4 separate regions of the Homo sapiens genome follow, and regions 1, 3 and 4 are each reported to be linked to region 2. Evidence: microRNA targets listed by miRTarBase, many of them from high-throughput screens and not tested one by one. Region 2 holds a microRNA gene; each other region holds the end of a gene's coding sequence.
Evidence for each region. Region 2 holds the annotated microRNA hsa-miR-2114-5p (UAGUCCCUUCCUUGAAGCGGUC, at 3,905-3,926, shown strand). A microRNA usually pairs through its seed, bases 2 to 8, with sites in the 3' UTR of a target mRNA and lowers its output. Matches are read on the target gene's strand: a 7mer-m8 pairs with bases 2 to 8, a 7mer-A1 pairs with bases 2 to 7 and ends in A, and an 8mer does both.

Region 1 (7,119 bases), not on the chromosome of region 2:
GGTGGCAGAATAAGCTGATAATATGGGTCAGATGGGCAAAATTCCACGAACTGCTCTTATGGACAACACTCGAAAGGATGCCCACACCCAAGATTCAACCGTGGTTTTAGTGAACATGGTGTTATAAACTTTTCTTGTTCTTTTGTTTTAAAATTAGGGTATTTGAAGATAAATGCAGAGGTCACAATCAGACACTAAAAACTAAGCCGGAAGAGAGATGTAACAATATACAATCCAAAACGTAATTTCTAACTGATGGCAAAACCGAGTTTGCTTTTTGGGTCCGTATTATGATGGGACATGAATGGGAATGGATGAGAGGTCCTTCACTTGGCTGGCTGACAGCCAAGTCTCTTCTAGTGCTAACCCATAACTAAACACATTTTCTAAGAACAGGGTCTTCTTGTAAGTGTATTTGTTTTTCCTGAGGTATTCTTTCCCTACAATCTCTACTGTTACTTCATTGGCTCCACAGCTTCAGTTTGTAAAAGAAAAAGGCACAGAGAGACTTGGACACAGACGGTCACAGATGCCTCTGGAGCTGAACAAAGTCTTCTGCTGCAGGCTGATTTACTTATTCCTCTGACACAGTTTCTGCAACAACAAAAATGTGCACTTTTCACTGTTGCCTGACACCTTCGTGATGCTACAGCAGGAGATAGATGCAGGAGATTATAAAGCAAGTTGAAAAACAACATTTTTCTGACTCAAATATAACTAACACTGGTCCAGCTGAGCATTACTAAAATGATTAAAATAAGAAGCGTCTAGTGGCAACCAAAAAGCTGTGGGATTTTTTAAAAAGTATTTTCTTTAAAGTGTTTTCACAGCAAAGATGCAACTTTCCATTGCTATATATACGCTGGTCATAAACTGTTGCTTGTTTGTTCACACTTCTTTCTCTTGTGTTATAATATTGATATTTAATAGGAAAATAAACTACATAGACTTTAATCTGTATGCATCCATTTGCAAATTTCCTTACAAAAGAGGACAAAGCACATAGGCATTCACAAATTCTATGCCATTTCTGTTAAAATTGGTATCATCTATACATTATATTACAGTATTAACAACTTTTTGTTCTACCCATTGGGTAGGATATGTGCATAATATATTCAACTTATATACAGCACCTTACAAATAAAAACATAAGAAAAGACAGACAACTGAAAAAAGCACCATTTTAAGTGAGGCACAACAAAGGTGGGAGCATCAAGTGCAGGAGGGGGCGGCTTGGTTCCTATATCTGCTGAACTCAGAACATGAGGCACCTTAGTTGCTGAAAAACTGACATGCAGATCTCTGACATGATAGGGGTATATCTACATATATATAATGTGCACGGATAGTGTATATATAATCTCTATAGCTCTAACCCTCTCCCGCATTACACAAAAACAAGGACACGCAGAGGGAAGAAAGAAAAGGATGAAGGAAGACATTGCTTTCTTAGCAAGACATTCCTACACTCAGACAGCAGCTTCCTAATGCATCCAGTTCGAGAAGCAGCAGCAGCAGCAGCAGCAGCAAATGACTGTCTGACCCTGGCAGTAACATAAACTTGAACTCTGCAAAGGACACAGCGTGCCGGGTAATAAAGAATGCTGAAATATTGGTTCCTAAAAAATGTAGACCACTGCAAGGCTAAGAGTGCTTTCCATTGTCTGTTCACATCTCTGTGATCTGTAGCGGTGCTGGCAGCTGGCGGTGGTGGAAATGGCGAACGGTAAGCCACGCAGCTGCTGAGAACTAGCATTTAGGATCTGGGCTGGAAGCAACATTTTTAAATTTGTGACTTTCCTCGCACCAAGAAGGGGAAGTTCTCCCTTTGCCCACCTGTCATTCAATTGTCCTTTCACCTCAGTAGGCCAAGCACGCGGCATTCTTGGTCAGTGTGAGCAGGAGAGCAAAGGGCAGGCTGTGGAGCATGTTCGTGGCATGAAGGCTTGGCTCCAAGCACTGGCTTTAATCACTTAAGCAAGCAACACAAAAGTTAACAGAAACCAAGTATCTTTCCCAGTTTTTTCTTTCATACACTGCCGAGCTTTGGAAAATTTTTAAAAAATGAATGGTACACAAAGTTAATGTTGCCATTCTAAGTAGCAAAATTCAATAAACAAGCAGTGCAGCAAGCCCCCGAGATGGGGGCGCATCCAGTCATGGCTGCATGGGGGGCCGGGCTCCCTGCGCCCACAGCAGAATGTCTCTGAGCCTGCCAGTGACCAACGCCATGAGCCGGTCCTTTGAGGGAGGGCTTCGGACTGGGTGCCGGGTGTCTCTCTACTAGCAATCAGTATCTGGCCTGAGGACATATTTGAAGTGCTCTGCACCAGAGCCTTCCTAAAAAGAAGAGCCGCTGGATGGAAGATAGAGGATGGCCCCTGTCAGAGAAGGGAACTGTTGGTTCAGAGAGGAAGGCAGGGATTTGGATGGATTCTTCTAGGTCAGAGAAGATTTCTAAAAGTGCTTCCTTTTGAGCCTTTCTCATTCTTATGAAGATGAAATAAAGGTGAAAGAGATCAAACGGAGATACGCAGAAGTTCAAGAAGTCCTCGCCTGGGTACAAAATTCCTCTGCTGGTGTCAGGAGGCCTCCCCCATTTACTGTTGGCCCCTATTTCCTGCCTCATAAGTTTGAGCCAAAATTAGTGAATGGAAATGCAGTCCTCACGATAAATCTTTTAAAAATTCGCTTCTGCTCTCTTGGGATTTCTTGTGGCTTGGGTGTGTGTCCATGTGTTTATGTGGTGGGGAGGGTGAGGACATGCTTGTCAAGCTTCTGTATTAGTAAATTTTGGACACTAAAAATAGAAGAACTATTGAAATACATAATTTGCTTCATGAAATCTCTTTTCCATTAAGGATTGCGTCAGTATTTAAAGAGAATGCTAGAGTTTCTGAAAAAGCAAACGTATGCTGGAAGATTGTGTTCTTATAGATGGGATTCAAGATGCCTTGGGTCTCCTACACCGGGAACAAGGGACAAAAGTCAGCGGTATGCCCAGGAGTGTTCATTCCCACCAAATGTTCTTCCTAACAATGCAATCCACACTTTGCTGGAATAATCTAAGATTATAAACCTATCATTGATTGCCTAAATCACTCGTTACTAAACTGGACCCATGGGTTCTATAAGCTAAAAAAAGGGTTCTTGAAAGAACAATAGGCCCCACTGTGTAAGTTGTATCTTCCCAGTCGCTACTCTTTCAACGCCACACTAGCCATGAGGCGACACGGTATGAACAGGTCAGCCACAACCTTCAAAAGAGCTACTGATCTAAATCACCTTTTCCTTCTGCTGAAGGGAAATTGACCATCAATTCATGTTATGACCTTGGCTTTTAAACTAATTCATTACAGAGCCCCAGCCTCGAAGACCTTTCAAAGTCATGGTTTGATATGTATGAGTCTTTAAATAACTATTTAACAAAGGCAGTTCTCTAGGGTGGTTGAATGGGAGGAGCCTCTTTCTTGAAAGATGATTAAAGGTATCTGAATTATGTAATTATCTCGCCAATACTGTGGACATGTGCAACACATTCATATACTCACAGTTACTAAGGAATTCACAAGTCTCTGCTCTGAGCCCCTTCTTGAGGCAGGTAGAGAAGTAAGGACTGTGAAGCCATTTGAGAGCTAGAGCTGTGGGGTGCATCTCCTGCTTCACCAAAACTGCAGGTGAGAACTGAAATGATGGAATCACTCACCTCGCCTCCGCATCTGTGGGCACACCTGACCAAGAATCCACTGCAAGTCCCTGCCAGCAGGGCCCGATGGGAACACGGGCTCCTCATCTTTGCCTGACAGAGGAAGAGAGGCTAATCTGGAGAGCCAGTGAACCTTCAGGGTGTCTCCAGGGTTGGGGAGGGTCCTTCTGGCCCCAAGCCAATCTCTGCCCTGAGAGCTGGTGTCTCTCCAGCAGAGGCCTTCCAACTGTCACTGGAACAAGACTGAATCCAGTCTCAGAACCTCCACTGTGACTCTCAACTGTATATACTTCCACACAGGTTGTAAGCATGAGCTGACAACTGGTGCCTGTGTTTTTCCTCTCTCCTTTTAAGAGTTGGACTAGTTCTGTGGATGTTACTGTGTGCAAAGGATGAATGTAATGGAAATTCCAATCCTCAAAACAAACAAACAAAAACCAGTGACCTATCTACAGAGGTAAGAAGCAGAAGGGAACAGACTAGGATCAGACAACTCTTGGGGTTTGGAACAGTCTCTCCAGTTACAGCACAGAGCCACCGCACCGACGGATCACCTTCGAGACCCACAGACAGACACAAACACACACACGCGGATTTGGCTTTAAGGCTGCATAGGTGGGAGTCATGGAATCATCATTCCAGCTCATCTTGTTATGTGAAGAGGCCACAGAGGCCCACCCTCCACATGGCAGAGTGTACTGCAGATAAGCCCTTCTCCACGCGCAGTGTCTGCTAAACGTGTTGGCTGCTGCTCTTATAAAAGCCAGTGCTTACATCTGCAGAAGAAAGTTATTTTTTTCATTGTATATAAGAATGAATATTTGTAAATATCAGGAATATTAAAACTAACAATATTTAAAATTAGTTTTCTAGTTGCATTTTAACTGCATGTTGTGCTTTTTACCCGGTGCTCTTCAGTCACTTGCCCCCTCCACTGTTCTCTGACTGTCCAGTTCTTGCCTTCAGTACAAAAGCTGGCCTGGGGAAGGGTTTGGTAGAATCCTGCGGGAATTTGGGTAGGTTTTGAGCACTGCATTCCTTTAAGAATGCTATGCTAATACTAGTGACATACAATAACCCACAATGGCTTATTACCACGATCAGCAACATGGCATTCTTCCGTCATTATTTCTAGGGGCTTCCAAAGCATAAGAAACCACCACCCACACCACTCCCACACGAAGTTCTGTGTAGGCTGGATGTGGGGTGGCTGCTGGGAGCCTCCTGTGAACTGAGCAGCCCTGCAGAACTGAACTAAGCTGTCGAGGAAAGGGGGAGAGGCAATGGGAATATACTGAGGAGTCACATATTTCAACAGTATGCAGAATAACCACCTTGCATTTTAAACAATTTATTGCATAAAATAAGGTATGTATTTGAATATATTTCATGCTATAGTGAAAAAAATCTAAATTACTGAAGAAATTGCACTGCTGGAGGATGAGGGCAGCACTGCATGATACTGGATCCATAAATGCATGTGTTCATTTTCTCATAAACTATGCAGCCTAAGAGTAGCAGAGTAACTCAAAATAACAAGTCAGAAATGCTGGAACTTAATCTTCCCTATCTTATCTTCCATCCAAAAGTCTCCAAAAGCTTCAGCGATGCACTGCTATTTGATGCAAACTCCTGCAACAATAATGACTTTTTTGATTTACGTAAGTTGGTAAAATGTTAGGCTACGTCCCCAAATATCTTTTCTTGGATGCTTCTGGGGACCACTCCAGGATATTCCTTGGGCCTGATTACAATCCACAGGTGAAAAGACAACATACAGAACTTCACGTAAAACAGTTCCCTTGTAAATATTTTCAACATTAAGATAGTGCAACTTTTAAAACACATCATCACAACACAAAGGAGCTCCTTGCACTCATCTAACTTCTCCACTTTATACCTTGGCACACAACACAGGAATTTTGATTCATATTTTTAAAACAAAATAAAAGTTCCACACCTTAGGAGAAAAAGCGAACTGGCTGGTTCTTCCCCACAATAATATATAATAATGCTTCCTTCTTTATTCAGTTAATTATAAAACATGCCATTCTGGCCTCATTTATCTGCAAAGTCTCCTTTCACAATTAAATACATCAAATACCTCTGTGGGTTTTATTTCATGGTATCTTCAAAGCATCCCGTTCTCTGTTTTCCCCTGCCCACACCCCCATCCCAACCCCTGTCCCCAAATAAACACTGTTTGCGGTCAGACCAGATGGAAGTTTGTATCATTTCAGTCTAGTTTGCATGCAATTCCCCTAAAAGGAATCAGAAACAAAGACCGTGTTTGCTCATTTGGTTTTACTTATTTGTACCATGTGAAACTGAACAACACTGTGCGCAGGAGGGGCCCAGCGGCCGCTTCCCTTCTTGGTTTCTTTCTCCAGCTGAAGTGCACGTTGGAAGGAATCAGACCAGGTTCCCAGGCTTCCTATCTTTGCCTTTGATGGGTACTATTGTGCTCTCTGCATTGTTCTGCTGAAACTGCAGTCTGCTGCCCCTGTGTGCGTTGCTGCGCTGGTGATGGAGGAAAGAGGCGCCTGGGTGGTGGCCCATCACCTCGCTGTATGTGGGGGGTGGCCCCTCCATCCTCCCGTTACTGCTGCAGGTGCTTGCACTGATGCCCGAGTTGCTGCTGGGTGGGCATGGACCCCCGCTATACATAGCAATGTCTATTAAATCACTGTCAAATATGGTTCGGTTGGGTGGGGCCCTCACGGACTCTCGGTTGAGTTCCATCTGCTGTTCAGGGTCCCGGAGCTGCAGGGTGCAGGGCCCCTGGTAAGGAGGTGGCTCTTCACCGTCGGACAGGGAGATGGTGGGAGGAAGATCAATCTCGTGCTGCACATAGGGGTAGGTGGGCTGGAAGCGGCTGAAGCGATCCCTCTGGATGAAGGACGGCGCTGTGAACCTGTCCCTGGACCGCGGGGCATGCATGATCTGGAAGGAAAAGAGGAGAGGCTTGAAGACAGTTTGAGCGCAATGATGACCATAAATGTGTCAGAATCAAGGAAAGTTACGCTTGGTGTGTGTTCCTACCAGTTTGAACACCATCTCCCAGGAAAAAAAAAAAGAAAACAGGAAAATCCAATTCCAGAAAAAAAAGTGTACTTTTCTGATTCCTTATGACAGACCACTCACCTTGCCAAATCCCAGCGCATCCAGGAGGGCTGAGCAATGGAGAGCTGTGGGTAATGGAAAGCTTGGGCTCCTGGGAGTTTCTGTGCGTGCTACGTGTGCATTTTCCCCTTGGAAACAGAACACACTAGGAACTCCAAGAGTCACAGGGCGAAGAGCACTGCGGCCTGCACTTGGATCTGGTCACCAGTGACATCGTCCAGTCCTCGGCTTCTCTATAACTTACGAGGACAGGACAGGGCTGCCTGCTTTCTCAGGTCCCTGCCAGC
Region 2 (7,119 bases):
AGGTAGGGCAGTGCCTGCATGGCACTTGGTGGATGGTCAATAAGACTTTATCCTTCTTCCTTCATCTTCCTCTTCCTCCTTCCTGTTTCCCCTCCTCTCCTTGGTATTGTTGCTATTTTGTATTGGTTTCTGTGCCTACTGTAACAAATTACCATAAACTTCGTGGCTTAAAACAGTGACAACTTATTCACTGATGCAGAAATGTATTTATTCATTTATTCTCCAACAGTTCTGGAGGCCAGAAATCAGAAATCAAGGTGTCAGCAGTTCCAAGCTCCCTGCGAAGGCTCTAGGGGATAATCCTTCCTTGCTTCTTCCAGCTTCTGGTGGATCCAGGTGTTCCTTTGGCTTGTGGCCGTATCACTCCAACCTCTGGCTCCATCTTCACCCTTACCTACTTCCCTGTGTATCTTGAATCTCCTGCCACTCTCTTATAATGACACGTCATTGGATTTAGTGCCTATTTGGATAATCTGGGATGGTATCTCAAGATCCTTAATTACATCTGCAAAGACCTTTTGCCAAATAAGGTCATATTCACAGGTGCCAGGTAGACATATCTTTGTGGGGCCACCATTCAATATACTACAGTATGAATATTAGGTTTTCTTGTCAACCCCAGATTCTCAGGCCCAGCCACCTGCATTTTCCCTGAGCTGAGCCTCTTCAGAACACTCATGGAGCTACGTGCCTATGGCCACAGTGGGAAGCAAGACCACAGCTTGTATCAGGTCTCCAGAACTTGTGGCACAGGGCCTTGGCCATCAGGTGACCCAAGCCTTTTACTGGCCTAGCAGGGGAAACTAAGCACCGCCCCCTGTTCCCACGCAGGAGACAGTAAGTCTCATGCTCTTTCCTGCTTGCTTTCAGCAGGTATCTAGAGGGCATCTCCCATAGGTCCAGCCCAGCCTGACTGCTGGGACACAGTGTTATTAATTAATTAATAACCAAAACCTCCTAGGCATCTCCCTGGCAGCCCCAAGGCCATCTTCCTGCCCCTGCCCTCAGGGCTCCACAGGCTTTGCTAAGGGCATGCAAACAGGCTCTCCCATTGCCGAGTGGACTGGGGCCACAGTGGGCCCTAAAGCACAGAGGGTGGGAAGAGCTTATCCTAGCCTTGGAGCTAAAGTCCTGGATTCAAATCCTGAGGACCATGTCTGTCACCTTAGACCATGCCCTCAAGGTAAAATAGCAGCTGTGAGCCCTGATGAGGTTGTGAAGCCCATACAGGGAGGGGAGTGCAAGCATTTTACAACCTGCAAAGGGCCATGCAGGAGACAGTCTTAAGAGATGCCAGGCCACTCTTCCCACCTGCATAGCCTAGGGGCTGGGATTGACCTTTCTCCTGCATCAGACAGGACAAACAAATGCCCCCCATGCTGGGAAAAGCCAGGACTCTGAGAGAAAGGCAGACCTTGAGGGCGGGGATGGGAGGATGCCCGTGCAAAGCTTAGCCCCCCTCCTCACACTTTTCTAAGAACGCAGTGATGGAACAGAACAAGAGAAAGACCATGTCTTTCACCAAAGGGGGGAGGGGACAACCCAGTGACCAATTTCAGTGATTAGCTGCAAGAAGAGGGTCCTTTATTCCAGGCGTGTGTATGCCTTTTAATTTCCTCTTGTGGGCTCCTGAGGGGGCCCAGTAACCGTGCAATTGGTATTCCTCTCCAGCCTTGGAGGATGCGGGCACTCTCTCGGAGATGGCTCCAGGTGGCACAGAGTGCCACCTGCACTCCCAGCTTCCCGATTAACTACTCTGCAGCAGACCTCCACAGGGCGATGAAGGGGAGGTGATAAGCTGGCCCAGCTCTGCCCTGGAGCCCAGGTGGGTCTTCTCCCGCCCGGAGGCAGCAGCGGCAGCATTAGGGAGGTGCGAGTTGACCCTACCTCCTACCTGCTTTGTGCTAAACCAAAACAAAAACCGGTGTCAAAGGGGCTTGGCCCCCTTCAGCAATTGAAGGCATAGAAGTTACACACCGGGCCAATTAGGGAGTGGAAATTTGCATTACAAGAAGACCCTTTGCTTCACAAAAGTAGTTCTCATAAGATTGCAATAGATGGCACCCAGGGGGGTTAAAGATTCAATTTTCAAAACCGAGTTTTGCCCACAACTCTTTCGCAGCACGTTCTGTTGTGGAAAACCAGTCTCCAGACTGACTTTTGACCAGCCTTCCAGCCCCAAGATTTGTTGTTTACCAAAGGATACATGCCATCCTTATACTATCTCATACTCAACCCCCTTCTTTGCTATGCCCGGGGCAATTGCTCCAAAACAGATATGGCTCCTCCCAGGCTGGCACCTGGCTCCCGGAGGTAGTCACAGTGGACAAGTATCTAGGCCTGGGGTGGAGAGTACGAGCTAGACCTGAGTCCCAGTCCTGCTGAGCCATCTCAAGTTGCAGGGCCTGTCCCCTCTTTCAGGCCTGAGTGTCCACATTTATAGAACAAGGGAAGGTTGATAGAAGAATCTCCCAAAGTGTTTTTCATTCTAGGAGTTCATTCCTAGGCATTGCTGGGTGGCCCTGGGGATACTCTTGACCTATGAAGTAAGATAGGGACATTGCCTTAGATAACGCCAATAATAATACACAGGGGAAAATCCAAATGCCTGCGTGCAAGTACTTTAGCCCTTGTACCATTTACAGATGCTGAAGGTGCAGCGGTGGGGATGGCCTGTGTCCCTACAGAAAGCACATCTTACAAGTCACACGCCTCACCATCTAAGTGCTCAGCTTTCTGAAACCTGCTCATTCAGAACATATGAACCTCATGCTGTGGTATTCCAGGTCTCAGCTTGGCAAGCTCAATGATGTTTTCATTCCAATCAGTGCTGAATACAAACAGACCCTTATCCCTAAATTGTGAAATTTAGAGAAAAGTAGAGTCTCAAGGTGCAAAATTTGAACCTCACAAAATTTAACTAAACCGAAGTTTGGGATATAGTAAGAGCTCAAGGAAATGGCTTCTAATTGCTCATTGGGAATAGATTTTTGAGATTAAAACAAATTTTTCAAACCTGTCCAGACTCAGAGGCTTGGGAGTGAACAGTTGTCACTTAACTTTATGGCAGTGGTGGCTGGAAGCTCGCCCACCCTGATTCTTTGTTCTCCCTCCCATAATTGCTCAAACTGAGAGGTCTGTAGGCACCTTAAGGATTCAAAGTGATTTGTGAAAGTTGTAAAGTCCAAGCCTCAACTAGAGAGTTGTTCTTGGAGGTAGGAAGTTTGAGGGACTTAAAATGAACTGGGGGGAAAAAGGCAACAGAGGAAGAGTGAGAACAGAGAGAGAGAAAGGCTCAGAGGAAGGAAGATAGGGGAGGGGGGGAGAGAAGGAGAGAGAGAACGTGAACATTTCCTGGTGATTTTAATTTTCACATCACAAAACACCGCACGTCTGTCAACCGTTATATTTCCTGTGCAGCCTTCTGTGACCACATGGAGTACCTCAGGGAGGGAAGAAAATAGAATTCATTCCTTTCTACCCCCAGCCTGATCTGCCCACAGCTGTTTGGGCACAAAGGAAGGAGGGTAGAGCTCTGGAAAATTGCCAAGAGCGCCTCCTCTCTCCAAGGGGAATGACCAATTTTCACCGCCACTGGAAGGGTGTGAGCTGTCCCAAACTGCCCTCTGGGATTATGCTTACTCGGTTCCACAGGAACATTTAGAGAGACAGAGGTTGCCTTGGGTTATCAGGGCCACAGGCTTCCTGGGTCTGCTTTTGGCACCTAGGATTCCATGAAGAGGGACTGACAGAACCTGAGAGCTGAAAAGCACCTCAAGAAGTCATCGGTCCAGTCTTGCCTCTAAGGACTCTCCATCTCAATCAGCAGGACCCTCACCCAGTCAGCAATGGATCAAACGTCCCAGCTTCTGGGGCCAAAGACAGGCCTCTGCCTCCATGCTCCTAGTCCCTTCCTTGAAGCGGTCGGATAATCACATGACGAGCCTCAAGCAAGGGACTTCAAGCTGGTGGCTTCCAGCAGCTAGCTTCCTGCTTCCGAACCATCATTGCCTCCTATTGAAGTCCTCCCATCCTCCACTCCCACATCTATCCAGGCCCTGGGAAACTTTGCCAAGAAGCAGATGATGGCGTCTGCCTTTGCCTGGGTGATGAGATGACTGGCTTCTGTCCCAGTTCTGCCACTCACCAGATGGATCAGTTTCTCATTGCTGTTATAACAAATTACCACCAACATAGTGGCTTAAAACAATGCAAATTTACTATTATACTTTTGGAGGTCAGAGGTCCAAAACAAATCAGTTTCACTGGCCTAAAATCAAGGTGTCAACAGGGCTGGATGCTTTTGGAGGCTCTGAGGGGAGAATCCATTACTTTGCCTTTTTCAGGTTGGCCACCTGTATTCCTTGGCTCATCACCCCCTCCTCCATCTTCAAAGCACATCGTTTCAATCTCTTTCTTAAGGTATCTTGCGGAGGAGGTCCCAGAGGCACCAAAGGGGTGACAAGCACAGATTGCTTTAACTGCTACTCAGAGAATGACTCTGCGCCAAGCCCTGTGCTGAAGGCTTTACACTCACAATCCTTGATATACACATGGAGCTCTTGTCATCACATCCCTTTTTCTTCTGTCTGTGCCAAATCTCCTTCTGCCTTCCTCTTATAAGGACACTTGTGATTGCATTCACAGCCTTCCCAGATAATCTAGGACAACCTTCTCACTTCAAGATCCTTAACTTAATTACATACACAAAGTCCCTTTTGCCATATAAAGTCATATTCACAGGTTCCAGGGGTTAGGATGTGGACATCTTTGTGGGCCATTATTTAGCCTACCATACCAGTAATAGGTCTTTGGCAAGTAAAGTCACCTCACCTCTCTGAACCTTACTTTCCTCATTTGTTCAGAGGGGAGAAGACTCCTGCCCTGCTGACTTCCTGGGCGCCCTAGGAGGTTCCAGTAAGAGAGTGAATGTGATGACATTGTATGCTGTTGAGTGAACACCAGAATAAGTGCTGAGCCTGGTTCTTGTTGCCCTTCTTATGAAGCTGTGGTCCCCTCAGTTCAGTCACCCAGTGCTATCTTCCTCTCTGGAGCCTTTCCTCTGTGGCCTTTTCCAGGCATGTCTTGATGAATGTACTCCAAGTTAAATGTGTCACTAAGCCAACTGGCTCCTCCTACCCTCTCCCAATGATTGAGCGTATAGAGTGGCTATGCTGACTTTGGATCCCAGGCACTGGCAAGTGAACACCTTAGTTGGTTAAAATATCCCTTCCCACTCTGCTGTGTTATGGTTTCAGTGAGACCCATGTGTATATGAAGAAGATTGTGAGTGTAGAGCCCTCAGCACAGGGCTTGGCACAGAGTTGTTGTTCTCTGAGTGGCAGTTAAAAATGTCTGTGCTTGTTGCCCCTTTTGGTGCCTCTGGGACCATCCTTTACCCCCTCCTCTGCAAGATACCTTAAGACCACAGCTAGCAGTCACAGCAGCAAGTGCAAGCACCTTTTGACATTTATGCCATCCTGGCCCTCTGCCAGTTGCTATCCATATCACTTTGGTTGGCCAAGCCCCATTGTCAGCCTCAGCTGGCCAGCATTCTTGGAGACAGGTCACAGTTTGTTCAACAGCTGATAAGAGGTGTGTAAGGGGCATCAAAGGCTCTGAATGGAGAGGTGGAAAAAGCCCCTGGGTGCATGGCCCTGGATGACTCTTGGGGTTTAGAAGAGACCACGGAGATGACCAATGACCAACAAGCTTTCAAAGGGAAATGCTTGCCTCTACCAAACTCAGGGGAAGTCATATCTTCTATCACCCCGGCGGGGGGCTTCAGTTAAGCTTGTGAGAAGCTGAGAGCAGAAAGACCTTTTCTGAACCTGATGTTCCCACCCCTCATCATGCCACTGTGGAGACAGGATCTACAGGGAACAGGGAGAACTTGGCCATTATTTCCCAAGACAGCCAGGCTGGCAGCTTCCACTACAGGTGCTGCTCTTCTCATTCCTGATCTTCTGAGCACACCATCATTCCCCAGGGCCTTCCACAGCCATCTTCTCTGCTGGGGTGTCCCATAACCTTTTTATGAGTCCCAGATGACCTTGATTCCAAAACCTGACAAGGATATTGCAAGAAATGAACATTATAGACCAATTCCTCTCATGAACATAGTTCCACAAACTCTTAAGATATTAGCAAACCAAATCCAATACATATACACATACAATATTTATTGTTACATTTATATATATACATATAACATATACATACATGAATATAAATACATATCTCCCTTCCCTTTCCATTAATATGTATGTGCATATATATATATATATGTATGTCCAGTCATATATATTCATATATGTTCATTGTCCCATTCATGTGTGTATGTGCAGACAGAGAGGACTTCATCTTCATAGTTCTTCTGGTATTTTCAGGGTTCACCTCCCAAATAAATTATTTGTACTCCAATTCCTGACCTAGTATCAGCTTCTGGGGAAATACAATCTAATTCAACAACTAATTAAGGTTTATTGTAGGCATGTGAGATGTGAGGGTGGTTAACTATTTAGAAAATCAACCAATTGGATTAATCTTATTAACAAAGAAAAAGGAGGAAGTCATACAATCATTTGAATTGGTGCAGAAAAGCATTTGAGAACATTCAACAGCCATCCTTAATAAAACACCAAAAAACAAACAAAAATCTCTTAGAAAACTAAGAAGGGAACTTTCTTTCTTTCTTTCTTTCTTTCTTTCTTTCTTTCTTTCTTTCTTTCTTTTTAGTACAAACTTAGGGCTCTTTATTCAGGTAGTAAAGTAAGGAACAGCAAAGTGGGAGGGCTACACCATCACCATGGCAACAGAAAGCCTCAAAAACATAAAGTCCCTCGACTTATGTCGGGTAGACTCTTCCTAGCTCAGGAGAAACACATTTTAACTGGCTGAGGACAAGGCCAGGCAGCCTGGCCTCACTGTGGAAGGGCAGCTGGACGCATGGCCTCTGGTCAATCCTGGAAGTGCTTGGTGAGGGCTTCCAGCAGCTCCTGCTTCTTCAGCCCACTCTTCAGCCCGTAAGCCCGGCAGGCCTCTTTCAACATGGGCACAGTGAACTTGCCCAGCGTGCCCTTGCTAATGTGGGTCTTCAGCTCCTCTTCTGAATACTCC
Region 3 (7,119 bases), not on the chromosome of region 2:
AGGTGTGATATACATATGTAGAAGAGAATTCTGATATGATACACCATGCTCACCCCCCTATTTTTTCCCCACAAACCTTCCTCCTGGTGTCAATTTTGGCTTACACTACACTTCGTAGAAATCCAAAGAGGCTTTCTTTGGCATTAAACTACCTCAGCTTAGGACATACGGCTTCTAGCATCTCAGAATTTCTGCTGGGAATTATACCTCAGTTGGAGGACTTTCCTTTTAACCTAATAAAAAATAATTCATTCAATAAATGTTTATAAGCCCCCTCCTCATGGTAATGCCTGTTCTGTGTGTTGGGCCACAACCATGAACAAGACACACAGAGTGCCTGTCTTCATGGAGTTTAAAGTCTAGGGCCAATCTCACCAATTAGTTCTAAATAATTAATTCAGAATCCATAAAATGCTTAAGGGGTTTAACACTCCAGGGGGTGTTGCAGACTTGCTGCAACAATGGCTCATAAAAAAAGCCTGGAGAAAGGGATAGCCTGAACTGAGAACCACTGAAATACCCGAATTGACCTGGCAGATCCAGGAGAAAAGGATTACAAGTCTCAGGGTAGCCTCCTGGAGTGGATACATATATCACAGGAAGCCAGAAGACCCAGCAGAGAACTATGTTCCCTCGAGGGCCAGGTGGCACGCCGCTCATCGAGGCCATTGGGAATGCACTGGGGAAGGGCACTGGTGAGCAGGCACCTGTGTCACCAGGTTTGGTAGCAGACTAGAACTCACAATAGAAAAGGAGGTTATGCTTGGTGTTGTTGGCAATAGGGATGATGGGTGTTGAAAATCTCCCCCCTCAAGCAATAGAGGCTAGGCGGTGGTGCTTCCTCCCTCCTTTCCTTTTGCAGATGTAGGACCTCCACCTGAAGGCTTTCCTCACCCAATCCCAATTCCACCTCCTTTCATTTTTCACAGGCTTTATCCCCCCAAAACTGCTTTCACTGTTACCTCTGACTCTGATGCTGATCTGCTTCCTGGGGGGCCTAAGTGACACAATGAGCTTCTAGAAATGTTTTTCATACCTAATTCTAAGTTCTCTGTTCCACCACAGCAGCTGCTTTTCCTTTCCTCAGTGGTTAAAATAAGAGAGTTTCCCAAAGCTCATCAGATACCTGCAGCAAAAAGAAAAAAGTAGAATGCTGCAGTATATTTTCAGGGAAGATGCACAAAAGTAAAGACAACAAAGAATGGCAAAACTAATTGTTTTCAGTGTGAAAAAAGGTTTTAATCAACTTTTTTGGTCTCGCTCTGTTGCCCAGGCTGGAGTGCATTGGCTCAATCTTGGCTCACTGCAACCTCTGCCTCCCAGGTTCAATCGATTCTCCTGCCTCAGCCTCCTGAATAGCTGGGATTACAGGTGCCAACCACCACACCCAGCTAATTTTTGTATTTTTTAGTAGAGACAGAGTTTTGCTATGTTAGCCGGGCTGGTCTCGAGCTCCTGACCTCAAGTGATCCTCTGGCCCGGCCTCCCAAAGTACTGGGATTACAGGTGTGAGCCACTGTGGTATAATCAACTTATTTTCAAGGCCTCTGACTACTTCTTGTAGAATCTAAACCAATCTTCTCACACACCTACCTGATTCCACAGCCAACGAGAAGGTCGGAAAACAGGATGCAAGGCTGGGTGCCAAGGCAACACAGCACTGAGGGGAGGATAATACCTTATCATTTTTCTTTCTTTTCTTCTTTCCACCGCCTTGCTTTTTTTTCCTTTTTATGGCCAAGGTAAGTATGGGATGTGGGCCAAAACAAGTTTAATCTGAATTGTTCATTTTAGCTTAATTTAAAGTATTTTCTCATGAACACATCACACAAGCCTCTGTGGAAAGAGGACCCCAGGGCAGCTTGAGGCACTCATATGTGACTAATTAATGCACAAAGCAGGCAATTAATTCCCTTCATTAGAGTTTTTCCCATCACTGGGCTTAAAGTGATCTTCCTGTGAACTCCCACATACATTAACTGTTTGTCTAACGACACCTTTCAGCTGTGTATTGACGGGTGTGGATGTGCCAGCCTCACTAGAATCTAAGTTATTTGAGGGTAAAATCTATAGTTTATTCATCCTTGTAAACTCCATAGCACTTGTATAGTGCCTTGTACACAGTATACACCGAACACTTGAGAGCTTGCGAAAGCAGTGCTGGAACAGACAGTAAGTCTGCTGCAGACAGCAAGCTTATAAGGGGTGGTCAGTGGTACCAAATGGAGCAGAGCATTTAAAAGGAAAAAAAAAAAAAAAGATCACTGTAGTTGATGACCATGTTGTGCAGCAGAGTGGTAAAGCTATAAGCCAAATTCTCAGCCTCTAATGAATGAACAATGAGCCAGTAAGTGTAGATACCCTTTCAAGAAGTTTGGAGACATAAGGAAGGAGACATAGCATGACAGCTTGACTGATGGCAGGGTAAAGGATTTTTTGCTGTTAAAAAGTGTTGAATAAGGTCTTGAATAAGACTGTAGACTTAGAAGAAGAAATCAACAGAGATGCTATAAGACGGAAAGGGAATGCTTGAATGTGTAGAACAGGTGGGCAGGTATGGGCCAAGGTCACAAATGAAGAGCCTAAGCTTTGAAAGGAGGGAGGGGATACCTATTATTTGAAAGTAGGAAGGATGATGGAGAGAACATCTGCTTGTAGTTCTGAGGGCAGGGCTTCGAGCTAACGCAGAACAGAAAAGCTATGGAAGCAAAAATGAGAGTCAATTAAAGGAAGGACTATTGAGTTGAAGAGAACAGCCATAATTTTGTAGAAGAATCTAATCAGCCTAATATTATGACTTTATATATCTACACTTAGTAAGTCAGAACCAAAGAGAAAATGAATGGTGGTGTTATCAGTTTCCTAGGGCTGCAGTAACAAAGTACCAAAAATGGTGTGGCTTAAAATAACAGTTCTGAAGGCTAGAACTCAGAAATCAAGGTGTCTGCAGGGCCAAGCTTTCTCTGACGGCTCTAGGGGAGAAGCGTCCTTACCCCTTCTAACTTCTGGTGTTTGCTGGCAAGCCTTGGTGTTCCTGGGCCTGTACGGTCACATGCTCATCTTCCCTCTGTGAGTCTGTGTGTGCAAATTTCCCCTTTTAAAAAAACACCAAATTGGATCAGGCTGACCCTGATGATCTCACTCTATATTTGATTACCTCAGTACAAACTTATTTCCAACTAAGGTCAGATTCTAAGGGACTGGGGATTAGGGATACAACTTACCTTTTTTAGGGAACACAATTCTACCCATAATAGATGGGTGCAAGGATGTAGGTCGAAGGCTGGCAAGTGAGCCTAGATAAAGGGAGTGAGAGAAAATGAAGATGCTAATGAGAACATGGGGATGGCTGACCATGGGGCCCACACTGGAAGAGAAGCAGATTCTGGAGACCAAGAGTTTGGGTGATGGGGTAAAGGCTAAGGATTAGCAGGCAGGAAATTACAGAGCAAGTTGGTTCAGCAGCAGTCATGGTACGAGACGAGCCTGGGAGAGTGGGGACTTCAGGATCTAAGATCTCGGATTCGTGATGAGGCTGGAGGTTTGGCTGTGACTATGGCAGGTCAGCTGCAGAAGGTAATTTGTTACTGGGAGATGATCCAGTTGAGGTAACCTCCAGAGGCCAGGGCACCAAGAGCAGTTTCTCCATCCACATGGAAGAAATATGGAAGATGACATCAGGGAAAGGGACAAAGGACAACTGTATTGGGAAGAGCCAATTGTGAAGGAAGGCAGGAGAGTATCCTATAGCTCAGGAGATAAGGACATGGGGAAAGGGCAGAATATTTGGAGGGGAAAGACTCCAAGAGTCCTGAGAAATGGGGCACAAGTGTGGAAGGAATCCTGAGGAGGAGGGAACATGGAAATTCCTGTGGGACCACAGTACAGTGGCAGAAGTGGTCTCTTTTGGTGAAGAAGAGAAGTAAAGTACATTGGGGCTGGAGAGGGAGGAAAAATGAAGGCAAAACGATGAGCCAAAGCCTTAACCAGATACTTCATGTTGTGACAGTCATTAATTTACTGGGCAAAAGTTGCCCTTTTGTTTGTGTTGAATGTTCCTCTTAATGTAATGAGAGAGTGGCTGAAAAACTCCTGTTGTTGGTAAACCAAAATGTTGGAACTGACTTTTGGTCACGGCCCTCTACCTAAGTAAGATTCAGCAGCTTTGCTAGTCTAAAGGGCCCTGTGTTGGATCCTGACTACTGCGGTTCTATATGGAGGCCACAGGCAGGGAGAGGAGCAGCAGGAGAGCTGCTTTGTTTCATAAAATGGGGACACTGGTACCTCCCTCATAGGGCTGCTTGGGTTTTCAGCCTACAGTTAAGTCCTTAATAAATATTAGTGGTGGCAGTTATCATTATTACAATAAATCCCATAGTTTAATGGGGGAGGGTTTAAAGTACACTCCTCAAAATCATAGTAACAATAATGAGTCCCTCTCCCTCCTCCCTTTCCCCAAAGATAAAGAGTACACTAACATGATCCCGGAACATTTATTTCCAGAGGCTTTTGATAGAAGAGCACAATCTTGAATAAAATTACACCACTGTACTTAAGGGCAACACTACATAGTAAGCAAAATCTGCTCTGAACCCTTTCACAGAAGAGACACTTCAGAAAGGAATTTTACATCTCCTGACAGTTTTACAACATTCATACCTCTGATGCACTTCAAGCCCCAACCCATCTCTCATTTTCTAACTTCTTTAACAGAAATGTGTGTTCACAAGTTGTGTGTGCATGCACATGTGCCTCTGTGTGTACACAAAAGGCTCATTTTACCTACTTGATAAATGAGCTGAGACGATGTTTTGGGAAAAAAAAAATTGGAAAAAAAATGTTACCCCAACACGATGGAGAAGCCAATCCAAAAAAGCTTCATGCTAGAGCTAGCTTTCTCCTCAGAAACTTACATCCTAAAAACATCCCTATGGGTGCCTAAAAATGGAAATCCAGTGAGTTCATGGCCTTGAGTTCACTCCTGTCCTGAATTTCTCCCAGTGCAGGTCCAGAAGGGCGAGATGTGGCAGAAAGGAGAATGTGGGAATGTGTGAGTATCCCACAGCCAGCTCACAGTGCAGCTTGCACTCAGAAAGGAGACTCAGGGACACAAGGTCTCAGGATGCACAGTTCACCTTGGCCTCATGTACCTGGGCTGGGGAGAGGGAGACCATTCAAAAGCCTGTGCTTGGCCGGGTGTGGTGGCTCACGCCTATCATCCCAGCACTTTGGGAGGCTGAGGCGGGCAGATCACTTGAGGTCAGGAGGTTGAGACCAGCCTGACCAACATGGTGAAACCCCATCTCTACTAAAAATGCAAAAATTAGAAAGGTGTGGTGGTATGCACCTGTAATCCCACCTACTAAAGGAGGCCGAGGCAGGAGAATTGCTTGAACCTGGGAGTCGGAGGTTGCAGTGAGCCAAGATTGCGCCACTGCACTCCAGCCTGGGTGACAGAATGAGACTCTGTCTCAAAAAACAAAAACAACAAAAAACAAAAGCCTGTGCTTCAACCTGACTCTTCAGCCTTGGTTTCTCCCAGTACTGTCACTGGGTCTTAGGAACTTTAATGCTCATAACTAATCCCTGTGCCCCAGGAACTCCATTATGAGCCTCAAGAGTCCTCCTTAAGGTATTCAGCTGGTGACTTCAGTCTGACCACTAGCCACCTGCATAGTTCCATAGCCCTTCTTGGCATCTCGATGGGCAGTCATGGTGCCTTGCCATGTAGGGCACATAGCCTGCTTTAAGAAAAGAAGATGGGTAGAGGAAGCTGAGGCTGTTGTCCAGGCCACTGCTGAGTCCTGGCACGGGGTTGAGTGAAGTTCTTGTGAGACAGGTGGGGCCCTGGGGGACCCTATTAGGCAGATGCCTTTGCTGCTTTCTGAGCCTGGTACTCCTGCTTCGCTTGCTCCCTCTGTTGCTGTTCTCTCTGGATCAACTGTACAAGGTCTAGATGCCACTGCTGCAGATTCTGCTCATAGGTGGCGATGTCCTCTGCTTCACAGGTGGAGAGTTTTTCCTTGACAAGCTGGGTGGTCAGACTTAAAAGACCTTCTGACTCAATTTTGCCCAGAGCTTGAAGCTTAGAATGTAAGGCCTGTTGGAAACAAATGGGAAAAATGAGAAGAAAGGTAGAGAAGTGAGAGAAAGATACAAAGAGGAAAAACTAGCCCTGAGTGACTGACTTTAGATTTGAACAAAAGTTTGCTGACTCGTAGTTTAGTCCTCATTCTAGTGGCCCAGAATGAAGTCACCTGCAAAATAACCACACATTTTGCTGGTAGAAAAAAACCATTTTGTTGGGAAATGGTCATGCTGCCTTTCATTCAGGTGCTGTTAGCTGTGGTTATTTTTTTCAGCTCAGCAATTTTGCTAAGATGCACCACATGTGATTTCTCCCCTTTCACTCAAAAACAGTAAATGGAACTCCATATGCTGTGTCTCCCTGTGTAATTTCTTGTTTTAAACCACAAAGACAGCCAGCCTCTAACAAATCTATGTTTCCACCCTGACCTAACCAAACCAAGCAGCAAACACCAAAAATAAGAATTCTAATATGCAAACAAAATGGCAGAGGCATCTGATAACTGGAGCAAGCCCAACCATACATGTGCCTTCGGAATAACTGAAACAAGTATTTGCCTTTCTGGCATTCCTCTCAACAGACGGAAATCAGTTCAAGGAATAGCTCCCCTGAGTGCCTGCACCGTTAGAAGCGTCTGCCTGCTGTGCTCCACTGCATTGGGTCTTAGGAACTCTAAGACTGCAGGTCAGTCTTTATGTATTGCCTGCTTACAGCTCCATCTGAAATGGCACCTTGGTTTGGTTGGTGTTGTGCTCCTGGAGAAGTAAGTATTAAAAACATTAATCTATTTAAGTACTTTAAGATGTACTCTCTCATTAGAGAGAGGGCCACTTACGGGGCCAGCTGTAGCTTATACCACACATCCCCATGTTCCACAAACAAATGCCACTCATTGGCACAGGAAAGGAGGCTTGCTTAACAGGGTTGGGGGTGGGCAGGGTGCCTAGGCTCCAGGAGGGGCCAGAGGCCTAGTGTGAGAGTCAATCATATAAAAATGGCTCCCAAACAAATGACCTCTGACTAATAAAAAT
Region 4 (7,119 bases), not on the chromosome of region 2:
TGCTGTCTAGTTTTCCTCCCAGCTCTGCCTCCTTGGCAGGCTACTCTTCCCTTGGGGACCTCGAAATCTCTTCCCAGCTGGTCTCATCTATTCCCGTGGCTTAAAATACCATCTATAAGCCAATGACTCCCAAATTTGTATCCTCAGCACAACCATCTCATCTGACTTATATCTCTAACTACCTTCTTGGTGATTCCACTTAGATGTCTCATGGGCACATATCTCAAACCCAAGTCTAAACCTCAATTCCTGACTTTTTTCTTGCCCAAATATGTTCCTTTCCCATATATGACCCCACCGTCCACCTGGTTACTCAAAAACCCAATCATCCTAGATTCCTCCTTCTCCTCCGCTTCCAACCATCATTGAGCCTTGTCATCTCTACCTCCAAAATACAGCTGGAGTGGCTTCACTTCTCTCTGTCACCCCTAATGTACGCCCCAGCTCTCCCGGGGCCGCTGCAGTAGCCTCCCTCCTGTCTTCCTGCTTCTGCTGCCATCCATGCTTCACACAGCAGCTAGGTGCACAGTGCACTTCAGATGTAAATAGGATTATGTGGGCCCACGTAAAAGCCTCATGGGTGACATTCCTTATCTATGGCCTTCCAGGTCCTGGGTGATCTGGCACCCGCTGACCTCTCCCATTTCCCTCCCTTGACTTTCTCCTCTCACTGTCATCCGTGCTCTCCTCCTTCCTGGTCCTCAAACACTCCAAGCTTGGTTCCATTTCAGAGCCTTCCTACAGGTTGTTCCCTGCCCTGCAGACCTGCTCTTCTCTGTCCCCATCAGGTGGGCCTCTCTCTCTTTGAGCCTCAGCTTTAATGCTGGCTCCTTAGGGAGGCCTCCTCTGCCCAAACCCCTGTTTGTACCCCCTTTTGTGTTTACATAGCTCTTTGTTTGTTTACATGTTTCTTGCCAGTGTTTCTTCACTAGCTCATGAGCTCCACGAGGGCAGGCAGCTTGCCTCTGTTGCTCACCACTGTATCAGCATCACCTAGGATGGTGCTTAGCACATACTGGAAACTCAGTAAATACTCAGATGAATGAATGGTGTCTGGAATTGTAGAAAGGGGTGTTTTGGAGGAGGTACCTCCCTGAGAAGGAAGAGCAAATATTGGCCAGGCAGAGAGGGGTGTTCACTCCAGGAATTAGGAAGCAGTGGGACCTGATGGTCACATTCTGATCTCTGCCCACTCTCCAATTATAGGTGAGAGTCTGGTTCCAGAACCGCAGGGTCAAGTATCAGAAGCAGCAAAAGCTGAGGGCAGCAGTTACATCTGCCGAGGCTGCCTCCCTGGATGAGCCTTCCAGCAGCTCCATCGCCAGTATCCAGAGTGATGATGCCGAGTCAGGAGTGGACGGCTGAAGACTGGGACAGAGGCCCTAGCCAGGCTGCCTGGACTAGTTCCTCCTGGGGGTACCCACTGGAGCTCCCTGCCTCACACCTCAACGAAAAGCCTCCTCAACCAGAAGAATCTGAGCTGTCAAGCAGGGACCCCCTTTTCTATACTGATTCCTGGAAACTGGAATAATGTAATGATTGGAGGCACAGACTCTGGCCTTCAGCTATGTCCTTGGCCAACCTATGGAACTTCCGAGCCTTTTTTCTTTATCTGTATAATGGGTGCATTCATAACTTAGATCACCCAGGGGTGAGAAGATGTCTGTAAAGCAATAATGTGCCATGCACAGTGCAAAGTGTGTGGTTACTGTTAAGGCTTGTAGGCCCCTGAGTAGAGAAGACCAACTGGAAAAAAAAAAGTTTTTTTCTTCTGCTGTCACCCCACAACAATCAACACAGAACACTTCTGTGACCAAACGTATAGGGGTGTACCCCACATTCCAACCTCCAGTTCAGCAAATTCTGACATGATCTACCTGCAGGTAGTGTCTGACCCCACAGATTCAGGGCTCATTCCACATGGCAGCCCCTCCTTTCTTTTTTTTTTGAGACAGACTGCAGTGGCGCGATCTTGGCTCACCGCCACCTCCGCCTCCCGGGTTCAAGCGATTCTCCTGCCTCAGCCTCCCGAGCAGCTGGGACTATAGGCGCATGCCACCATGCCTGGCTAATTTTTATATTTTTAGTAGAGACGGGGTTTCATCATATGGTCAGGCTGGTCTTGAACTGCTGACCTTGTGATCCACCCACCTCGGCCTCCCAAAGTGCTGGGATTACATGTGTGAGCCACCACCCGGCCCAACCCTGCCCTTTTTGTTTTTTATGGAGTCTTAAGGTCTACCAGTCATCAGTCAACTCATTAGCATATGAAAAGACATCACTTCAGAGATTCTAGGGATTTTAGGAGTTCTATGCCAGGAAATCGAGATGAAGACCAAATATATATTTCATAATATCACAGCTCCCCTCACCTGGGGGAGTAATACCTGTACCAGCAATTAATATTTTCCTGGCCTGGCTGTGGAGAAGGAACCTCTTTGAATAAGCATCTGGGCATAGAAGACTCTTCACCATCAGAAGGAGTTGAGAGCAAAGAAGAGAAGGTAGACTGTTTAGCCCACTTCACAAAGTTTCCCAACGTTTTCTTGTTTTGTCTGAACTGTTACCATTCTCAGAAGAAGCTCAGGCCCAGCAGCAAAGACAAGGACTCGCTCTGTCACCCAGACTGGAGTGCAGTGGTGCAATCATAGCTCACGGCAGCCTCAACCTCCTGGGCTCTAGTGATCCTCCCACCTTAGCCTCCTAAGCAGCTGGGACTACAGGCGCGTGACACCACGCCTGGCTAATTTTTAACATTTTTTGTAGAGACAACGTCCACTTGTTGCCCAGGCTGGTCTTGAATTCCAGGCTTCAAGTGGTTCTCCTGCCTTGGCCTCCCAAAGCCCCATCTTTTTATAGAATAATTTGTGTATGCCAAGGCTGGCATTTTGTCATAAACTCTGCTGTGTTTTCACAGGACAGTTATAATTTCCCCCTTTCATGACTCTGACTCATGGCTCCTTTTTCTTCTCAAGAATGTGCTCGATTTCTCTGAAAGAAGCCTGCTGCCAGGATTTGCAGAGCTGATTTCTGTAGCACAGACCATTCAGATTCTAGAATGGCTCTTGGGGACTGAGCTGAGGGATGGAAGGAAGCCTGCCCTGCCACCTGGTGGTGAGTGAGGGCACGGCCCCCAGCTGCTCTCGGGTAGGTTTGCCCCCAAGTACGTGGACTATTCGCTCCCTGACACCGGGCTGCAGGCTTGAGGGGACCCAGGGTCGGTTTCAAGAGCCTCTTCTCTGGCCCTGCCAACTATCTATCTCCCCCAAGTCCGTGGACTATTCGCTCCTTGACACCAGGTTGCAAGCTTGAGGAGAGGCAGGGTCAGTTTCAAGAACCTTTCTCTGTCCCTGCCAACTATCTATCTATCTATAATTATTTGATAGATAATTGTGGCTTGATCACGGCTCATTGCAGTCTAGACCTCCCCAGGTTCAGGTGATCCTCCCACGCATCACCACGCCCGGCAAATTTTTCTATTTTTTGGAGAGACAAGGTCTCACTACGTTGCCCAGTCTGTTCTTGAGCCCGGGAGCTGGAGGCTGCCGTGAGCCGAGATCGCCCCATGCCAGTATGGGCGACAAAGCGAGACCCTGTCTCAAACAAAACTCACAAAATCAGGGGACAAGGAAACAAAACAAGGCTTGATAGTCAGGCCTAGCTGTGGGGACAAATGCCATAGGTCTGTGGTTTGCAGCTTCTTGGGGTCCTGAGAGAACAGGCCCCTCCCCCTTTTCACGACAGTGTGTGCATATGCACACTCACTTCTGTATCCAGTTTCAGAGGTTCTCAGATCTGAGGTCCCCTATGGACTCCTCCGCTACCCCCGGTTGCAAGGTCCCTAAGCCATTGAAGAATCTGACAGAGGCACAAGTCCACCCTGACCTTTGGCAGGACTGTTCTGCTGCCAGAGGGATTACCGAGAAAGGAAATCTTGTCCTGGACTCTTCAAGTGGGGTGAGTGAGCTCCGGGGTATAAGCTAGTCCTTCCCTTCAGGCTGAGAGCTAGACAGGATAGGAGTAAGTTGGCCTTCTGCTGTCCCACTCTAGGGCTGGGTCCAAAGAGCGCTTTACTCAGTGAAGACAGGCCACTGTGTGGACAGAGACAACATACATAGAAACATGCATCGGAGGCCGGGCGAGGTGGCTCACGCCTGTAATCCCAACACTTTAGGAGGTCGAGGCGGGCGGATCACTTGAGGTCAGGAGTTCGAGACCAGCCTGGCCAACATGGTGAAACCCCTAAAAATACAAAAATTAGCTGGGCTTAGTGGCGCACGCCTGTACGCCCAGCTACTCGGGAGGCTGAGGCAGGAGAATGAATCACTTGAACCTGGGAGGCAGAGGTTGCACTGAGCCGAGATCGCGCCACTGCACACCAGCCTGGGCGACAGAGTGAGACTATCTCAAAAAAAAAAAACCACAACAAAACATGCAACGGACTCAAAGATACACACATCAAAACTGTACGCGCACACAGACTCTGATACAGAGGTACAGACACAAAAAGGCACCGATGTAAAAGCACAAAGGCAGGCCCAGTTACACTCCCGTCAACAAACCACGGAACCTAAATTCAGACTTGGTGGAGCCCAAAACCTCGCAGCCTCAGGGGCACTCTCGCCGGGGGCGGGACCAGAAGGGGGTGTGGCCTCTCAGGTCGAGGCGGGGTTAAGGGTCATAAGGCGGAGGCGCGCCCAAGATGGCGGCCTCCATGTGCGACGTGTTCTCCTTCTGCGTGGGCGTGGCGGGCCGCGCGCGGGTCTCCGTGGAAGTCCGTTTCGTGAGCAGCGCCAAGGTGAGGTCGGGGCGGGTCCTGCCGGGAGCCTCTCCCCAGTCCGGCCATGGAGACAGCCCGGCCGGACTCCATGCCCGGAGCCCAGAGGCTTCTGTGCCGCTCGGACGCTACGGCCCTGCCCCTGCTCGCGGCCCGGGGGCTCCCAGTCTGTCCCTGCGCGCAGGCTCGTGGCGCGGTCACGCGATAGACCCGGGCCTCCGGAGTCTCCGTGCGCATTTCCTCCCAGCGGAATTCGGCCAGCCCGCGGGAGGCCCTTCTGTGGCTGCTCGGGGCGGGGCTAGGGGGCTTTGCTGCTGTATCCCTGGAACGGTGGGCGGGGATGTGCCGGGCAGAGAGAACTGAGGTGTAAAAGAGGGAGTCCTCACGAACTTCATGTGTGAGATTTGGGTGAGGGGATGAGGAGAGAGGCCAAGATCCTTCACGAGGGTCCTTGGAGTGCTGAGGAATTTGGACCAGAGTCCAAAGGCCGTGGGGGCATTGGGAGAGTTTTTAGCAGGAAGGTGACGTGATTTTGTCGTTTTTATTGTGTTCCAAAAGTTCATTGTAGAAAAAAATACAAAATGCATGTAAGGAAAGAAAATACAAAAATCACCCATACTTCTATACTTGTGCAAAGATGAGTACGTTAAAATTACATTTTTAGAAACTGCTTTTTGATGCAGCAGTGAATCTTTCAATATCAAGCCTATTTCTACATATTAAGTTTTAAGAGCTGAGTAGTAGCTTCTTCCGTGAGAGGGTCACAGTTCACTCAACCAACCCCTTATTAATGGACCCTTTATTGTTGTATGGTATTTTTCATCCCCAGAGTCAAAAGTCTTAGAGCTCATTTTCTGTGCAAACATCCTCTTGTTTTGTCCAGCAGTATTTTTTTCCTAGTTATCTTTGCCTATTGATATGTGTAAAATTATATTTGTTCTCATTTACGTTTCTTTGGTTACTAGTGAGGTTGAATAATTTATCCTGTGTAGTGGCTGTGTGTATGGTTGGTTCTTGCCCAAGACGTAAGACCTCTAGTTGTCTGTTGTCTGCTCTCAGCGTCATCATATTGATCTAGTTTTCCAGCTCAACCTTCCGTGCCCCCTTTCTGCTCTAGAGGTATCTGGAGCAGTTTGCTCCTTCCCTGGTAAATCAGCTTCCCTACATCCCTGGTCTCCTTACCTGTTCCTATCTCCATCTCCATAGTCTCTAGTGCTCCTGGGTGGCCACAGTTTGAAGGCCTCTCAGTTCCATCATTCTTGGTTTGCAGTGATATTCTTCACCTTTTTCTTCATTAGCCCCCAGTCTCTCAGCCCCTTCCTTTCTTCATTTCTTCCCTCTCGCTTCTTCACTTCAGCCACTCTCCTTGCACAGTTTTCCTGTCCCAGGCTTCTATCAAGGCCCTAGCTGATTGCCCTCTCCTTGCCTACATCTGATCTGCTGCTGGAGAAAATAACATACCTGCCTGGACTTGGTAACAGCATGGATTATCCTGGGCTTTTTGCTTCTCTATTCAAATGAGATTGGTTTGTGATTTTTTTCTCTGTGTTATTTTCCTCAAGTTGCCACATGAGGGTTATACTTGTTTTTTTTTGGTAAAACAGAAATGCTTTCTGTCATTACATTGTTTAAATAGCATGAGCATTATTTATTCTTTAAAGGTTTGAGAGAATTGGGTCATGAAACTATATAGACCAGGGGCCTCAAGTGGGAGTAGTTTTTGACTACTGTTTATTGCTTCTGTGGATAGGAATGACTTTTCAAAAATTTATCAACTATTATGCCAGAGACATGACCAGTCAGAACAGAAACCTCACCAGGTCCAGTGGAAGCCAGCTGGATTACCATACTGGTGCACTAGCCGGATAGCAGCATGGCTTATTGTGGGCTTTCTTCTTTTAATCAAGATTTTAAAATCTACTACATAGTCTGCCCGGGCATGGTGGCTCATTCCTTTAATTCCAGCGCTTTCGGAGGCCAAGGTGGGCTGATCACTTGAGATCAGGAGTTCAAGACCAGTCTGGCCAACATGGTGAAACCCTGTCTCTACTAAAAATACAAAAATTAGGCCTGGCGTGGTGGCTCACACCTGTAATCCCAGCACTTTGGGAGGCCGAGAGGGGCGGATCACTTGAACTTGATGTCAGGAGTTCGAGACCAGCCTGACCAACATGGTGAAACCCCATCTGTACTAAAAATACAAAAATTAGTCGGGCGTGGTGGTGCACACCTGTAATCCCAGCTACCTGAGGGCCAGGCACGAGAATTGCTTGAACCCAGGAGGCAGAAGTTGCAGTGAGCTGAGGTCGTGCTACTGCACTCCAGCCTGGGCGACAGAGGGA

Region 1: miRTarBase lists LDLRAD4 as a target of hsa-miR-2114-5p. Seed matches in the 3' UTR shown: 7mer-m8 at 3,755-3,761.
Region 3: the mRNA of MRPS27 is a reported target of hsa-miR-2114-5p. Seed matches in the 3' UTR shown: 7mer-m8 at 4,432-4,438.
Region 4: the mRNA of NOTO is a reported target of hsa-miR-2114-5p. Seed matches in the 3' UTR shown: 7mer-A1 at 2,039-2,045 and 7mer-A1 at 2,714-2,720.

What each region holds. Positions count from the first base shown.
Region 1 is chr18:13,644,660-13,651,778 of GRCh38, reverse strand. LDLRAD4 (low density lipoprotein receptor class A domain containing 4) reads right to left here. Exons shown (of 7, transcript NM_001378100.1): 7 at 1-6,652. The coding sequence ends at 6,122. Among named protein-coding and RNA genes, the nearest start is that of MIR4526, 37 kb to the right of the region's middle. RefSeq lists enhancers at 1,720-2,219, 2,220-2,721.
Region 2 is chrX:150,224,112-150,231,230 of GRCh38, forward strand. MIR2114 (microRNA 2114) reads left to right here and starts at 3,893; the gene lies at 3,893-3,972. It also overlaps the pseudogene XRCC6P2. RefSeq lists enhancers at 1,155-1,742, 1,743-2,328.
Region 3 is chr5:72,215,049-72,222,167 of GRCh38, forward strand. MRPS27 (mitochondrial ribosomal protein S27) reads right to left here. Exons shown (of 11, transcript NM_015084.3): 11 at 4,355-6,100. The coding sequence ends at 5,861. Among named protein-coding and RNA genes, the nearest start is that of MIR4803, 49 kb to the left of the region's middle.
Region 4 is chr2:73,209,565-73,216,683 of GRCh38, forward strand. NOTO (notochord homeobox) reads left to right here. Exons shown (of 3, transcript NM_001134462.2): 3 at 1,207-2,949. The coding sequence ends at 1,365. SMYD5 (SMYD family member 5) reads left to right here and starts at 4,681. Exons shown (of 13, transcript NM_006062.3): 1 at 4,681-4,798. The coding sequence starts at 4,703. RefSeq lists a silencer at 3,145-3,214 and enhancers at 4,537-4,831, 4,619-4,858.